Linked DNA regions of Homo sapiens: region 1 is linked to region 2. The links come from fine-mapping of genetic effects on gene expression. Tissue or cell type: neutrophils. Region 2 holds a variant in brackets; the other region holds the start of a gene. All regions are shown on one strand. Distances are from middle to middle.

What was found. PIP is the estimated chance that this variant, and not a neighbour inherited with it, causes the effect.
Region 1: it holds the start of ECE1-AS1, and the variant in region 2 is fine-mapped to the expression of ECE1-AS1 in neutrophils (BLUEPRINT, PIP 0.95).

The regions. Positions count from the first base shown.
Region 1 is chr1:21,288,816-21,296,815 of GRCh38, forward strand. It overlaps ECE1-AS1 (ECE1 antisense RNA 1), which reads left to right and starts at 4,475. Exons shown (of 3, transcript NR_038404.1): 1 at 4,475-4,928; 2 at 5,119-5,395. It overlaps ECE1 (endothelin converting enzyme 1), which reads right to left and starts at 1,648. Exons shown (of 19, transcript NM_001397.3): 1 at 1,549-1,648; 2 at 1,255-1,341. The coding sequence starts at 1,599. RefSeq lists enhancers at 92-653, 4,422-4,511, 5,353-6,552, 5,892-6,051, 7,756-8,000 and silencers at 1,330-1,499, 1,550-1,729.
Region 2 is chr1:21,342,144-21,350,143 of GRCh38, forward strand. It overlaps a transcript of ECE1 not described here. Among named protein-coding and RNA genes, the nearest start is that of ECE1-AS1, 53 kb to the left of the region's middle. RefSeq lists enhancers at 1,144-1,193, 1,744-1,833, 2,578-2,957, 3,658-3,707, 3,718-3,767 and silencers at 3,088-3,197, 3,318-3,507. The variant A/C (reference allele first, on the strand shown) is at 3,549.

The DNA of each region.
Region 1 (8,000 bases), 53 kb before region 2:
GGTGACCGAAGGCCAGTGGTTGCCCCTCTCAGAGCCTCAGTTTCCACATCTGTAAGTGGGGACAGTAATCCCTACAGGTCTCAGGGGTGTTCCTGAAGGTTAAGCAGGGGTACCACACATCCCAGTGGGTAGAGCCCTTGGGACTGTGAGTTTGGGTCCCCTGGGCCTATGTGACCCTGGAGGAGGAACTCCATCAATGGTGTCTCCCTGCGCTGGGAGGATTATTCCCGCTTCTAAGAGGCGTATCTGAGTGGAGTGGGCCTGGCAACTAAGCGTCCATTCATCCTAAGCTCGCCTTTGGGAAGAGTTGTGTGCCAGTTCACCAAGTGGCCCCAAGATTCTCCCAAATACTTCCCTTGGTCTACCTGGCAGAAGTCCTCCGAGAATTGGGGTGCCCCAGCTCCTCTTTCTACACTGGCTTCTCAAGAGCCAGATCACTGGGTCTCCTAGGGTGTCCGCAGCGTTTCCAGCACCTTCCCACGCACCTGGCTGGCTCCAAACCCCTCCAGCACTGAGGTCTTGGCCACAACTGTCCCAGTGCAGCCCCCCAGGGACGGGAGGGCAGAAAGCAGCCTTGCTCAATGTCCTGTTACAAGGCAGGGACGGGGGTGGGGCCCTCCCCAGGAGTGGGCAGATGGGATGCCCACGGGCGGAGACCCTGGGGAGGGGAGGAATTGGACTTCCTTAGTAGGCTGGAAAAGGGGCAGGGAGAGGGGGCAGAGAACAGGTTTCTGGCCCCAGGAAACTCAGGTATTGGGAGGGCAAGAGGAAGAGGGTGGTACTGCCTCCCGGATAAGGTGACCAACTTTCCCAGTTTGCCCCGGACTGGGGGAGTGGGTTCCAGGGATGCAGGGCTTTCCACGCTAAAACAGAAACAGCCGTAGACTCTGCCGGTAAAGGGCCTGGGCAAGTCCCGGGACATGCACAAACTGTGCCTTCTGTGGAAAGGGAACTGGACCAGTTCGGGTCTCGGGGGTGCTTTCAACTCTGCCACCTGGGCTGTGGCCCCAGAAGCAGGTGGCCGGGAGGCTCTAGGGATGGCGGGGGCAGGTGAGGGGAGACTGGTGGGCTCCGGAAGGCTTCTCAGCGCGGAGCTCCAGCTGCGGGGAGGCGCGGCCCCTCCCGGATGCCGGGACGAGGGAGGGGAAGGGAGGGGAAGAGGCGGGGTAGGTAGGGGCGGGGGGCGCGGCAGCGGCAGCGCGCATGCCCGGGCCCGGGGCGCCTGGACCTCGGGAGGGAGCGGAGGGCGCCTACCTGCAGGCCGTTGGGGTATGCGTCGCCCTCGGAGAGCGAGTCCACCAGGTCCTCCTCGTCCAGCGTGGCCCGCTTGTACGTCGACATCTGCAAGGCCAAATGCAGCACGGACTCCCTCAGCGCCTCCATGGCTCTCGCGCCCGAATGGGGAAGCGGCCCCGACCCTGGCGCCGCCGCCGCCGCGCCCCGCCCCGGCCTGGACACCCGAGACCGAGACCGGCCCACGGAGCGGCCCGCGCGGGGAGGGGTCCCGCCCGCCTCCCGCCCCCGCCCTCCAGGCCGCGCCCGCCTCACCCCCAGCGCCGACAGCAGGGCGGACACCGGGGGCGGCCACACGCCCCGCATGCTGTGCCCCAGACGCCTGGTCCCGCTGCCCGGGTGGCCGGGATGGGATGGGCCGGGCCAGGCGTTGCACCACCTTCGCGGGCGGGGCCTGATCGGTTCGCCGGCGCCCGGTTCCCAACCTCCGGCCTCCCGGGGAGACCCCAAGACCCGAGAGGCCCGGGGGAGATGGGGACCCCTCCCTTCCCCGGAGGTCGGGAGTGGGGGCCCCCAAACTGAAGCCCCTAGCAGGCAGGAAAGGCCCTCACAGTGACCCCTCCTTCGAGAAAATCTTAAGTCCCCCTTCAACAACCGGGTCCCCAGTGGCAGATAACAAAAGTATCAGGAAGGTGCCCTCGATGTGGCCCAGAGCAATCAAGACAGGTTCCCCCCGGCATCAGCCCTTAGGTGTGTCTAGGGGGTTAATGCTAGAAAGACCAGACAAAAAAGGTGGGGTAAAAAGGTAGGTGTCCCCTTTCAGTTCCCCTTTCTAGCTCAGAGGCCTTTAAGCCAGAGTTCGTGAATGAGTTTCAGAAAATTTCAGAGAACTCCCTGACACGGGATGAAAGGAGCTGTGTGTGTGCATTTGGATGGCTGCAGGGTGGTCCGGTGGTCACCCCCGTGCTCAAAGGTGTCGCCCTCCCTGCAACACAAGAGAACCATTGCTCCAGGGGGAGTCAGAAGCCAGGAAGGGGACCCTTCTTTCCCATCTTCCCCCTCAAGACTCGGAGCCTCAGCCAGGTGCCCCCCTCCCCAGCCCCTGAGCCCTCTCCTATAACCCTAGGCAGGGAAAGGGGGCTCTCTCGGATATGAGGTGTTCAGTTAGGGACTCAGGCCCAGCACTGTCCCAACCAAGAACCCCAGAGAGGTCTAACCCAGCAGATTTCCAAAGGACTCTCCGCTTCTAGCAAGGCGGGAATCCCTGCATTTATGCGTACTTTTCAGCTTTGCAAAGTGCATTTCTGCTCATTCCAAATTTGATTCTCACAGTCACACATATGTGTGAATAAACAGGTTTAGAGGGGTGAGGGGCCTGACGTCACAGGGACAGTGAGGGCAATGGCTCCAGATGGTCTCCTGGCTTCCACTCCTGCCCTCTGACAGCCCCCTCAGCAGCCAGGATGAGCCTTTAAAATGAAATCTGGCTGAGGCCAGGCACCATGGCTCGCTCGCGCCTGTAATCCCAACACTTTGGGAGGCCAAGTTGGGTAGATCACTTGAGGTCAGGAGTTCAAGACCAGCCTGGCCAACATGATGAAACCCCATCTCTACTAAAAATACAAAAAATCAGCTGGGCCTGGTGGCATGCATCTGTAATCCTAGCTACTCAGGAGGCTGAGGCAGAAGAATCGCTTGAACCCAGGAGGTCGAGGTTGCAGTGAGCTGAGATTGTGCCACTGTACTCTAGCCTGGGTGACAGAGTGAGACTCCATCTCAAACAAACAAACCACAGAAATCTGGCTGGGTTCAGTGGTTCACACCTGTAATCCCAGCACTTTGGGAGGCTGAGGCAGGAGATCACTTGAGTCTAATTCTAGGCCAGCCTGGGCAACACGGACCCCATCTCTACAAAAAGAAAATATATATATATATATTTATATATTATATATTTTTAATTAGCAGGACGTGGTGGTATGCGCCTGTAGTCCCAGCTACTTGGGAGGCTTAGGTGGGAGAATCGCTTGAAGCCAGGAGGTGGCGGCTACAGTGAGCTGTGATTGCACCACTGCACTCCAGCGTGGACGACACAACAAGATCTTGTCTGAGTAAATAAATAAAATAAAAAAAAATTCTGATATTACCACTCCCTTGCTTAAAAACCCTCCACTGTCCTGGAATGAAATCCAAACCCTTCACCAGGCCCCATGGCCCCTGCCCACTCTGGGCCCTCATCTTGTGCTGCCAGCGCCCCCTCCCCCACCAACCTCCTCACACAACTCCTCAGTTTCTACAAGTTTCTTCTTCCCCCAAGACCTTTGTAGCTGCTGTTGTCTCTATCTGGAACATTTTTTCCTCCTCTCTACTCTTCCCATGGTCAGCTCCAACTTCAGATCTCAGCCTACCAGCTCCTCAAATGTCCCAGGAACCCTAAGCAGTCCCCCAAATTCTCTGTTACAGCATCCTGTTTGTTTTCCTTTACAGTACTTGTTGCAGACTGTTTTGTTTCCATGTCTTTATCATCACTGTCTCTGTCCCTCTCCAGAATCCACAGCTTTACTGGGGCTGGGACCTTGTCTGGCCTGTCCAACAGAGACTCTCCATCACCCGGCACAGAGTAGGTGCTCAACAAACGGTTGTTAAAATCAAAGGGGGGACAAGTAGAGGGGAAGTGCCTTCAAGTTCTCAAGAACTCTCCTGCATCTAACTTCATAATGCCTACAGAAACAGGGAACACATCTAAAGGTCACAGGCCCTGGGGAGGCAGGGTGCATGGGAAAGCTCTGAATTCTGGAGACTTCTGCCTCACTCCCACTGGGTGGAGGAGTTTCCATTACCCATCCCAGAGAGAGAGGGGACTCTGAGGCTGCTTCACTTACTGCTGGGTTGCAGCTGGGCTTTTTCTAGAACAGGACACTTGGTTACACTACGTTACCAGGTGTCGATTGCCAGAGGAAAAGACTTTTGAAAAAGAAGTTCAGTTCACAGAACATCTCCCCGGGGCATGTGGGTGGTGTAAGGGATTCACCCGGCTGGTGTACGGGATTTGTCAGTTCTTTTATACCATCTCTTTTAAGCTTCTCACCCTTCCCTCAGAAGCAGGTATCACTGGTTCCTTTTACAGAGAATGAAACTGAGGCTTGGGGAAGTTAACTCGCCCAGGTGTGGTTAAGCGATGGCTCCTCCTCCTTCTGTCTCATTTCAGAGATTTCCCCCTTCTGGCAAGCTCTCCTGACCACCCTCCAGGGACCCCAGACAGCATTTGGTCCCTGGCTCTGTGTCCCCACACAGCCACCCTACCCCATGCTGCCTTTTACTGAGGCACACAGCATTTTAGACAGGAGAACCCTGATGGCAGAGGCTGGGTCTCACGGGACCCTGTCTCCTTAAGGGCTTAGTCTGGGGCTGGAGCCTCTACAGATGTTTGAGCAAAGGCGGGAGGCAAGGGAGGGAGGCCGGAAGCCACCCCAGGGACTCTGATGTCCACCCTGCGGCAGCCTGTCTGTGGACAGATGATGCAGGAAGCTCACGGAACTCCCAAGCAGAAATCAGCAGAGATGGAGCCTGGTTATTTTTCAGCACACAAAAGCCGAGGGCCCCTTCCTGAGATGCCTGCCTCAGCCCGGTAGTGAAACTGAACCCACCTCAGACGGGAAAGGCTTGGCGGGCTCTGCTTGGTGGGAAGTCCACAGTGGGTGAGTGACATTTCAACAGCTGCCTGGGGCCCTTCGCCCAGGGCCTTCCATTCACTACCCCAATGGCTCCCCACACCCACCTAGAGCCTCAGCCTCACAAGTACCGCTTCCAGCTTACAGAGAGGGGGAGGGGCCTAGACAGACCAAAAACCAACCATGCCACTTGACAAATTCTCTCCTAACCCCACAGTGCCTCGTCCCTGAGATGAGAATCATCACCTCCGCTTTACAAATGAGATGACCAAGGGTCAGAGAGGAGAAAGGACCTCCCCCCAGCCCTGAGTCACCTGCCTGGAGACTGAGGGAGCCATAATGCGAATCTTCCCCTTGCCAAACCCACTGACTCCATTACGCTGCCTCCAGAGAACCCGAGCCCCGCGGCGAGAAAGTGGTAGAGCTGGGCCTCGAACCTGGGTCCTGGACTCTTGGTCCTGTGCTCCTTGTGGAAGATGGAACTGCTTCTTCAGGTGGGAACCTCACAGAGTCTGGGTGCCCTGGGCAGACTGAGGCTCTGGGCTGACAGGGCAGCCAGCACTTATTCTCCCTAATTGTCTCATTTGCAGTTGTGGGTGCCACGCCTGGCCCCGAGTGTGTTGGGGAAGGTAAAGAACCTCCACTTTGGTCTTCTCAGTTCCCTTCCTGGCACTGTGCAGCCGTGGAGGAGAAATCTGGGTTGAATCTGGGTCTAGTGTTCAAGAGGAGGGCCTGGCAGAAACCAAGAGTGAAGGGGTGGAACCACAGCTCCCTGTGGACTGCCCCGTCCTCAGTCCCCGGTGCCCCAGCTGCACAGAGGAAGTGATGACAGCCAGATGAAGGTGCAACAGTGCCCAGCTCTGGAAACTCCACCCTTGTAAATCAAAGGCCTGTGGTGAGCAGAAACGAGAAATATAAACACGCACAGGTTTCTGGCGACAAAAGCCTCCTGGCCTGGTAGCACCTGGGCATGACCCCCTTTGCCCAGACGACATTAGTCACTCATATGGCTCTTGCGTTTGGTTGGCCAAAGGCGGGGGATTGTTAAGTCATCTTGGGGTGATGAGGTGGAAAAGGGAAGCCCCACATGTGAAATTCTGAGGCCTGGGACTGAGCCACACCCTCCACAGCTACTTTCACATTGTCTCTAAGCCTCAGCTCCTTAGAGACGCTGCCCTTTGTGGCCGAAGTCCCCATCAGTTACTACTTTTGGTGCTGGTAATTGGCTGGGATCTGTTCAATCTTTACATGTCATCTAAAACACACTCATATTATCTGGTAGCTAAACACTTATATTTCACAGATGCTATAATGTAGTGGGTAAAATCTCTGGATCTAAACCTCATTTCAGATCCCCAGTCTGAACTTCCCAACTCTGTGACCCTGAGCAAGTGACTCAGCCTCTCTGTGCCTCAGTACTCATCTGTCAAATGAGGAGGATGATGATAACAATAGTACCTCCCTCATAGGACTGTGGTGACACTTAAATGAGTTAATATAGATAAAGTGCTTGGCTGGGCATGGTGACTCATGCCTGCAATCCCAGCACCTGGGGAGACCCAGGCCGGAGGATTGTTTGAGGCCAGGAGTTCAAGACCAGCCTGGGAAACACAGCAAAACCCTGTCTCAAAAAAACAAAAACAAAAACAAACCCAAGTAACACAACTTTGGGCAAGGGATAAGATATAAAAATATGGCTATCATTTCTAAAGATATGCCACTTGACATTTATTATTATTACATTATCCATTATATTTCCCAGTATTTTTCACCAGAGAAATTTCCATGTGATTAGCTTATTTTAAAATTTACTATGAAGTTCCTGAAAGTGTAAACTGCTTCTTTACTTTTTAATAACAGGAATCAGCTTGTATCTCTTTTTTCTTTGGCTGCCAGGAAACTCATAGCCAAATCAGAAACTCGCCTATGGGCACTTTCTTGGCCTTTAGGTTCAGCTTTTTCCTTGTCCACATTTTCCACTCTGTTTTCCGTGATTCTGATTTTCCATTTGGTATTGCATGTCGTTTTACTGAATGTATTTTATTTATAACCTATCATGAATCCTTTGTGGAACAGAGTTAGAAACAACATTTATCAGGCAATTAAGACAGACCTGAGCCCACTCACAGGTTTCCTGGCTCATGTGACCTCGGACATGTTGTTTTCACCCTCAGGTCTCAGTTTCTTCATCCGTAAAAGGGCCATTGTAAATACCGAGTAAGCTAGAACATGAACTGCCTGGCATCCAGCAGCCCAAGCCTGCGTGAACCACACCAGAGGGACATCCTGCGCAGGCCACCTCTTTCTGCTTGCTTCTTCTTGTCTTCCTCACCACCCCTCCCATTTGCTTCTGCCCTCATCCAGATTTTCCAGTCTTGGCCTTTGTTCAGCCAACATTTGTTGTTACTCTAGCCCTGCTGTAAACTCAGTGAAAATAACAGATTGCCCAGGTGATGGAGGTTAATATCAACAGCAAGAAGTCAAATACGAGTTATTAATAGAAATCATGTACCCTTCAGCCGGGTGCTCATGCTTGTAATCCCAGCACTTTGGGAGGCGAGGTGGGCAGATTGCTTGAGCCCAGCAGTTTGCGACCAACCTGGGTAACACAGTGAGACTTTGTCTCTACAAAAAATTTAAAAAAAAAATTAGCTAGGTGTGGTGGCATCCACCTGTGGCCCCACTACTTAGGAGGCTGAGGTGGAAGGATTGCTTGAGCCTAGAAGGTTGAGGCTACAGTGAGCTGAGATCACGCCACTGCACTCTAGCTTGGGTGACAGAGCAAGACCCTGTCTCAACTACAAAAAAAAGAGAGAGAAATAAAATAAAATAAAGTAAAACAAAACAAAACAGAGTCATTGACCTTGACATTGCCCAGTTCTCAAGGCTCTTTTACTCTTGTGTCTTACAATCACCATGTGGGATAAGTCCTGGGATCCCCATTTTACAGATGCAGAGACTGAGGCTCAGAGAAAGGAAGCAGCTTGCCAGAGCTGGAGCCCAAACCCAGATCTTCCTGGTTATCTCAGGGCCTCACCTCCTTTTTTTGTGCCTCCTACCCGGGGCCTGGCTCTGTAGGCTAACTTCCTTTAGAGGCTA
Region 2 (8,000 bases):
AGTAAAGAGCATTCCCAACCCTCAGCGGTAGCCTCAACTCAGCCCCAGCTTGGAAAGTGAAGGAACATTCTCAAGGTGCCACAGCTGCAGATGGGGGATGATGGGTTGGGTCTCCTTCCCCCAACTGTCTGCCAGGTTACCCCTCCAAAAGTCCAGGAGGTTTGTGCCTGTTCTGGTACTATCTTGCTCTGTGACCCTGGGCAACCTCCTTCACCTCTCTGTGCCTGCTGCAGGGTGGTTTGAGTACAACCGGAGGCAGGAGACATAAAAAGCCTCCTCAGAACCCTCGGCCCACGGCTTGCACTGGGAGAAAACAGGGGGAGACGGTCCATCCGAGGCCCTTAAGAACAGCACTGACTCCCTGCCAAGGGGTTAGAGACGTGGGTGGGGAGCTGGTGACCATCAGGGAGATTCAGTGAGGACAACAGGAAACACATCACACAGACACACAGACACACACAGATACACACACACACACACACACACACACACACACACACACACGCCCTGCAAACGCGCCGCATTAGGAACCCAGGGGCCAAGGACAACTTGGCCACACTGCAAAGAAGTGAGTGCTGGATTTGTTTAAAAGCCGCGGAGCAGGAGATCCAGGGAATAAACACTTGATCAGTCCCGAATCACCCCTGCCTCAGGAATGACAGCACAGGAACCAATGTTTAGAGGAAATTAAAATGACAGGAGCCAGGGAGGCCTGACATCAGCCGCCACCCCATGCATGCACCGCCGGTCAACAATCCACCGTGGACTTCCTCAGCCTAGTACTTTCTGGCCCCAGCAACCTTTTTGCCCTCTTTCTCTTTTGTTTCCTGACCCTTTCATAGCCAGGTGCCAGACCAGCCCCATTCTGGCCTTTCCAGGAGCCTGTCCTGTGCACTCACACCTCTGCTCCTCTGTCACACAGGTCCCCCTCCCGGGACACCCCTTCCAGTTCAGATGTCACCTGCTCCATGAAGCTTTCTCTCGTCTCTCCAGCTTGGAGAGAGCCCCTGCCTGGCATATTTCTACCTCTCCAAGGACGTGCCAAAAAGTCTGAGGACCAGTGCAGACGTTTATGGCCTGGTGGAAGCTCCCATAACACTGTTTATTCAGTCAATTCTTTCCTCCCTCACATGGGGTTTGGCTTAGAGTAAGTGTTCAACACGTCCTGGCTAAATGACAGACGAAAGTATCACGGTCTCCTCCCTACAACATGATAAACTTTCATTCGTCTTCCAGACCAGCAAATAGGTGGCCTCTGTCCCTGTGCTGGAAAAGCCAGCCCATAGCCCTGGACAGATGGATGACAGACTTTTGTTTTGGATTCCAGAGACAACCCCTGGGGCAAATAGGTTAGATGTTAGGTAGAACTTCCCAGCGTGGGCTCAAGCTTGGAAAAGAAAACTAAGCAGTACTGAAGCAAAGCACTCTCACTTGGGTTATCTCACCCTTTGGAGGTAAGTGTTATCATCTCATCTTGCAGATGAGGAAACTGAAACTCAAGGGTGATGCTTCACCTAGACCAAAGTCCCTGTGGGGAAGTGGAGGGGATGGGGTTCAAACACAAATTGGTGTGACGTCAAAGCCTGGACTCTTCACAATAGGCTGGTGGGCTTCTTCAGTTGTAAGGATCTATAAAGTGTCACCAAGGCAAAGTGAGGGGACCTCTTTCTTTTTTTGGTGGTTTTTAAGGAAGAAAAAATTTTCTTTATGAGTAACTCAGGGTGGGCTTAGAGGCAGAGGGGATCATACAACCTCAAAGTCTCACGGCCTTTTGGTGCCCATACACTGAGACTTTAAATCCAGTGCTGGTCCACAGATAGTGCACTCCCTGTGTCGGAAACGGTCTGGGTGGGGCATTACAGGGGAGATTCCTAATGGAGGAGGTAGGTTGAGTCTCACGTGGTCTCTAAGCACCTTCAGGTATAGAACTAAGCCATAATTCCACCACTTCTGACTCTAGTGAGGCAACTGGCGGTGCCTAAGCAAAGAAGACCCTAGCTGGGTGAGAAGAGGCCTTGGAAGGGAGAGATGGGGGGGCGGGTTGTAAGGGGACTCCAGCTCTGGGCACAGCAGGGGCTGGGAACCACTGTGGGACTCTTCGGCTTTACAGGGGGTCCCATCCTGCTCCCATCCAGGCGCCCTCGGGCTTGGCAGCATCATCACAGAGAAGTGGAGGGGCTGGATCACAGGTACTGGCAGCCACCATCCCAGGCACATGCCCTCCTCAGCCCTACATGGTGACTTTGACCCACTTCACAGGGCACAGAACAGAACTAGGAGAGGGAATCCGAGTGGCTCGTCTATAGGGAAAGAAACCAAAGAGAAGTAGATGGCTCCCTTCCCGTGATGGAGAGGCCGGCACCCGGCCCTGGACAAGTGGACAAAGGGCCTTTGCTCTTGGGGTCCAGGGACAATGCCCCTCCCAACAGCCCCCCCCCAGGAAGCCCAGCCTGGATCAAATGGATTTCTCTTCTGGGGCTTTAGAGAGCCCCATGAAACGCCCCTCCCCAGTTCCCTTTCTCCCTGGTACTCCTGCCTATCGCAGTCAGCACTCGGCCTCAGCAAGCCCCTCCTCTGAGGACCCATCACCGGGAGATGCTGGGGAGACCGGATCGCTGGGTGCAGGGCCCCTGAGTGTCCCCTGGTCTCTGACAGCACCGACCTAGCTGCGTCGCCACCACATACACCCCTTAGGCCACAGCTGGATCAGCAGTCCCAGAGGGCCGCAACCTAGCCCTCCGAATGCGCCGGGCGTGGCCACCCACAGTGCCCCAAGGCGAGCCCCAGACCGACCTCAGTGTCCCGGGACGCTCAGGTCCAGCTGCATCCAGGCACCTCGAAATCGCCGCCACCCGCGAGCCCGACCCAGCCCGGCTGCCCTGGGTCTCCAAGCCAAGCTGAGTCCAGGGACTTCAGAACAACCCAAAACAGACCGCAGCAACCGTCCCCAAAGCGAACCGGGGACCCCGAGCCCCCCACATCCGGCTGGGACCAGAACCAAGCTCGGCGCGGCCGCCCCCGACGGGACCAAGCGCAGCGCCGCCGGGAGAGCCGCGCTCTGCCCGGGCGCTCCCCGACTCCACGCCTTCCGAGAGCCGGGCGGGGGCTGCTGCTGCAGCCGGCGCCCAGCCCCCCGCGAGCCAGGGCGGCCCCGGGTGCCACCCGCGGCACCGCTGCCCGCGACCGTCGAGGCTGGGCTGGACCGGACCAGACCTCCGCGCGCAGCACTCACCATAGCTCGCGTGCTCCGCCCCGGCTTCGCGCAGCTCCCCGCGCCCGGCTCCCGATTCCCAGCTCCGGGTTCCCTGCTCCCAGCCCAGCTGCTCGGACGGCTCGGCTGCCTGGCCCAGGCGGCGCGCTCAGCTCCAGCGGGCGAGCTCGCGGCTTCGGCGCCGAGTGCCGGAGGGGCGGGGCCGCCGCGGGGCCAATGGCAGGGCGCGGGGGCCTGGGTGGCGCAGCCAATCACGGCCTGAGGCTGCACTCCCCGCGCCCGCGCGGGCCCTTAACCCTTGGCGCGCTGGGAGTCGGCTGCCCGGGCTGCGCGGGGA[A/C]CCTGGAGGGCAGGAGCAGGCGGGAGTTGTTGCTTCGGGGCGCAGGGTCCAGACCTTGCCGAGACCGGCGTTGGGAGCTAGCAGAACCGGGAAGAGGCTCGATTGTGTCCGGTGGGGCCGCCGGGAGCCTCGGCGACCTTTGTCTCCTGCCTGGCTCCTGCACTGGAGTGTGACCCGGGGCGCTGCAGCTGCTTGTGTGTGTGTGTGTGTGTGTGTGTGTGTGTGTGTGCGCGCGCGCGCGCGCGCGCGCGTGTGTGTAAGAGGGAGGAGAAGAGGAGACAGAAACGGTGGGAGGGGTGGATTCCGCGTGCCCGTGTGCTTATGTGTGAAGGAAAGTCCTGACTATATTTGGGATTTGTTGCTCTGTGTGTATATGTGCGTGTGTGTGTTTGCTATATTTGGGGTTCGTTGCTGTGTGTGTGTCCGCTGTATTTGAGGTTTGTTGCTGTGTGTGTGTGTCCGGTATATTTGGGGTTTGTTGCCGTGTGTGTGTGTGTGTGTGTGTGTGTGTGTGTGTGTGTGTAAGAGAGGAAGAGAGATGAGGAGACAGAAAGTGGGGGAGGGGTGGATTCCGCGTGCCCGTGTGTTTATATGTGAAGGAAAGCCCTGACTGATTTATTTGGGATTCGTTGCCGTCCAGGGACTTCAGGACAACCTGTGTCCGCTATATTTGAGGTTTGTTGCCGTGTGTCTGTGTGTCGCTATATTTGGGGTTCGTTGCTGTGAGTGTCTACTATATTTGGGGTTTGTTCTGTGTGTGTCCACTATATTTGGGGTTCATTGCTGTGTGTGTGTGTCTGCTATATTTGAGGTTTGTTGCTGTGTGTGTGTCTCCGCTATATTTAGGGTTCATTGCTGTGTGTTTGTGTGTCTGCTATATTTGGGGTTCGTTGCTGTGTGTGTGTGTCCGCTGTATTTGGGGTTTGTTGCTGTGTGTGTGTGTGTCCCCGTGATAGAGGGGTGAGGGAGGGAATGGTAGCAAAGCAGAGAGAAGGAGCCGTGGCTCTCTAGGCGTGTGAATTTGCAGGTCCAGGAGAGACACTGTCTCCACGTGTAGGTTTTGTGAGGTCAAGGGAAGGAGGAAGGAACAGAAGACAGCCTGCCTGTGTGTGTGTGTGATGTGTGATCTCCACTTTTGGGTCCTGTTGTACATGCATGTTAATGTGGTAGAAAGAAATGTGGTGTCCCTGTTGTAAACAAGTTGTGAAAAAATCCTGGGTTTTTGTGGTGTAGTTTGCGTGTGTTGTACGTGCCCACACAAAAGAGGGACATGGCTGTGATTTGGTACAACTTTGTGTGTAACCCAGTTTGCAAGAGACATCGAGATAAAAACATTGTGTGTGTGGTGACACTGTGGTCTTTGTGTGTGACTGTTGTGTGACTTTTGTGATCATCTATATTTGGGTTGGGCTGAGAAAGAGAAACTACTGTGTAGGGGGCATAATGAGTGTATGTTCAGGAGAAAGACATCCTGGCGGCATTGGGATTTGGGCTTTGAAGGATGTCTAAGAGTTCATTAGGCCAGACAGAATGCTCGTGAGGCCAGAGGGAAAGATCCGGGGAATCCTGCCTATCAGCCAACGGGGGTGAGGAGGCTGTAGTGGTGGGTGACCAGGGTGAATTTGGAAACAGAACCTACTGCCAGCAAGGAAGAGGAGGAGCAACTGACTGCAACCCTTGCCCAGGTGCTGACCCAGAGTGGCCCTGGATGCGTCTGGGCACACAGAGTCATTCTAAAGCGGACCATCTGTTCCTGGGCAGTTTGTTTGGGAACCTGGAGGGCGGGGAGGGGCTCTGTGGAAATAACTCTATGTTGCTCCTTCCTTCCAGCAGCATTCCAAATTCTTCAGTGTGGAGGACTCAGGGAGGTCGAAAAGCTCCTTGAGTGCAGCAGTTGGGAGCATGGTGAAGGGGGGAGGGTCTGGCCGTGTCTGCAAGGTGACCAGACCTGAAGGTCCAGAGCCCCCCTCCATCATGGGGTACTTAAACTATCAGCTGCCCTGGCCTGGTGTCCGATTCCTGACTATTCCTCAAGTGTCTTCCTAAGAATCATAGCCTGATGCCTGCAGAGACATTGAAGATCCAGGGACACACAAAAATGAAACCCAGTTATCCTGGCACTCCACTTGCCAGCAATGTGATTATGTTCTCTTCTCTCTGAGCTCCCGTTTTTGCCTCTGTAAAATGGTGTTCATAATTCTTACCCACCTCACTGTACTGTTGTAAAGATTTAAGGAGTTAATATACCTCGTGGGCCTTTTGTAACTTAACAAACCGCTAGAAAGCCTTTAAGCATTGCTCCATTTACAAAAAGTTCAAAAAATAAGCAAAATTAGACCTGTGCTGTCAGAAGTTAGGTTTGTGTTATCTTTGGGGAGGGAATGACTGGAAAGGGGCACCAGGGAAGCTTCTGGGTGCTAGTAAGGGTTAGGTACGGAGGAGGGAGTAGTTCAGTTGTGAAAAATTGAGCAGTCTCCTTAGGATCTATGTGCTTTTCTGTCTCTGTTACTCTCTAACAAGAAGTTTCCAAAAGAAAAAAGGGCCAGGTGCAGTGGCTCATACCTGTAATCCCAGCACTTTGAGAGGCCAAGGCAGGCGGATCACCTGAGGTCAGGAGTTCAAGACCAGTGTGGCCAACATGACAAAACTCGTCTCTACTAAAAATACAAATAAATTACCCGGGCATGGTCGTGGGCACCTGTAATTCCAGCTACTCAGGAGGCTGAGACAGGAGAATCGCTTGGACCGAGGAGGCGGAGGTTGCAGTGAGCTGAATCACGCCGCTGCCCTCCAGCCTAGGTGACAGAGAGACTCCATTTCAAAAAAAAAAAAAAAAAAAAAAAGGCAGGGCTCAGTGGTGGATCACTTGAGATCAGGAGTTTGAGACCAGCCTGGCCAACATGGCAAAACTCCATCTCTACTAAAATACAAAAATTAGCTGGGCAGGGTGGCGGGTGCCTATAATCCCAGCTACTCCGGAGGCTGAGGCAGGAGAATCACTTGAACGTGGGAGGCAGAGGTTGCAGTGAGCTGAGATCGAGCCACTGCACTCCAGCCTGGGCGACAGTGAGAATCCGGCAAAAAAAAAAAAAAAAAAAAAAAAAAAAAAAAATCAGAAGGTCAGGTATAGGTATTATGACCACATTTTAATCACTCATAAAATGGACATTCTGGAATGCTGTATCAGCTCAGGGCAGAGTACTGGGGACACTATATTGAGTAAGGTGTGGTTCTCCTGGCTCTATGAAGAAAGCAGAGGAGAAAGGCTGTGGCTTTCTTGCTTCTGAAAGGGGCACATTAAGGATGGGGCGGGGCGGGCAGGGAGTGAGGGGCAGCATGCCCAAACCCACTCCAAAGCCACTCACCCGGCTTGACAGCAGAATCAGGACTAGAACCAAGGCCTCCCAAGGTGATGGCTGAGTCTTTTCCATTCTACCAGGCTGCTCCAGAAAACGCAGCCCCTGGTCTTATGCTGCTCAAACGGAAGCAAGCAAGTGAGGTTTGCTGCCGACTCTGACCCTTACCTCCAACTCCTCCAGGATCTTCAGAGATCACCTCATCCAAACAGCTTTCTGGGAACGGCCAGCCATAACAAATGCTAAGCATTTATTATGTGCCAGACATGGTGGCAGGTGCTTTGCAGCATTATCTGAGTGATTCTCACAATTCTATGTGGTAGGTGCTAGGATTCCCACATCACCTCCATATTGCAGGTGAGAAAATCAATGTTCAGAGAGGGAAAGTGATTTGCCCGAGAAGACACAGCTAGTTTGAGGGGCTTTGCTCCTTTGCTGGCATGCAGCTGCTTCTGTTGGTATTCATGGGCTCGCCATGCCCTCTGACAGACACAAGTGGTTTCATGACAGGAGAAGGTGTCCCCTGTTAGACTGCTGGAGACTGGATGAGATGTGGGGAGTTGCCCCTTCCAAATACTCAAGCCTCTGGGCACAGGGTCTGCCCCATCGGAGCATCAGGGCTCAAACGCAGAAAACCAACCTGAATTGGCCAGAGCCAATTGAGTTACACAGAGCCTGTGTAACTACAAAGTACAGGGGCAGAGCTAGCTTTAGGCATGGCTCCAAGAGGAGCTCAGATGATGACATTAGGATTCAGTCTCATTTACTCCATCTCTGAAGACCGCTTCCCTCCCTGCTGGCCTCACCTCTTGGCCTCATGATGACAAGATGGCTGCCCTCAGCAGTGGCTCACATCCTACTCTCTTATCAACTCCCAGCGGAAACAGGGACTCACTTTTTCCTACAGTTCTAATTAACATTCCCAAAACTGAGTCTTGTCGACTGTCACTGAGACATGTGTCAATTCCTCTGCCAATCACTGTGGCCAAGGGTTCTGATTAGCCAGGAAGTGAGACCCTGGAGATACCTGGCATTGTAGTTTAGGTGTGGGTTTCCAGCCATGCAGCCTCAGGACTCACCAGGATCCAAAAGGAAT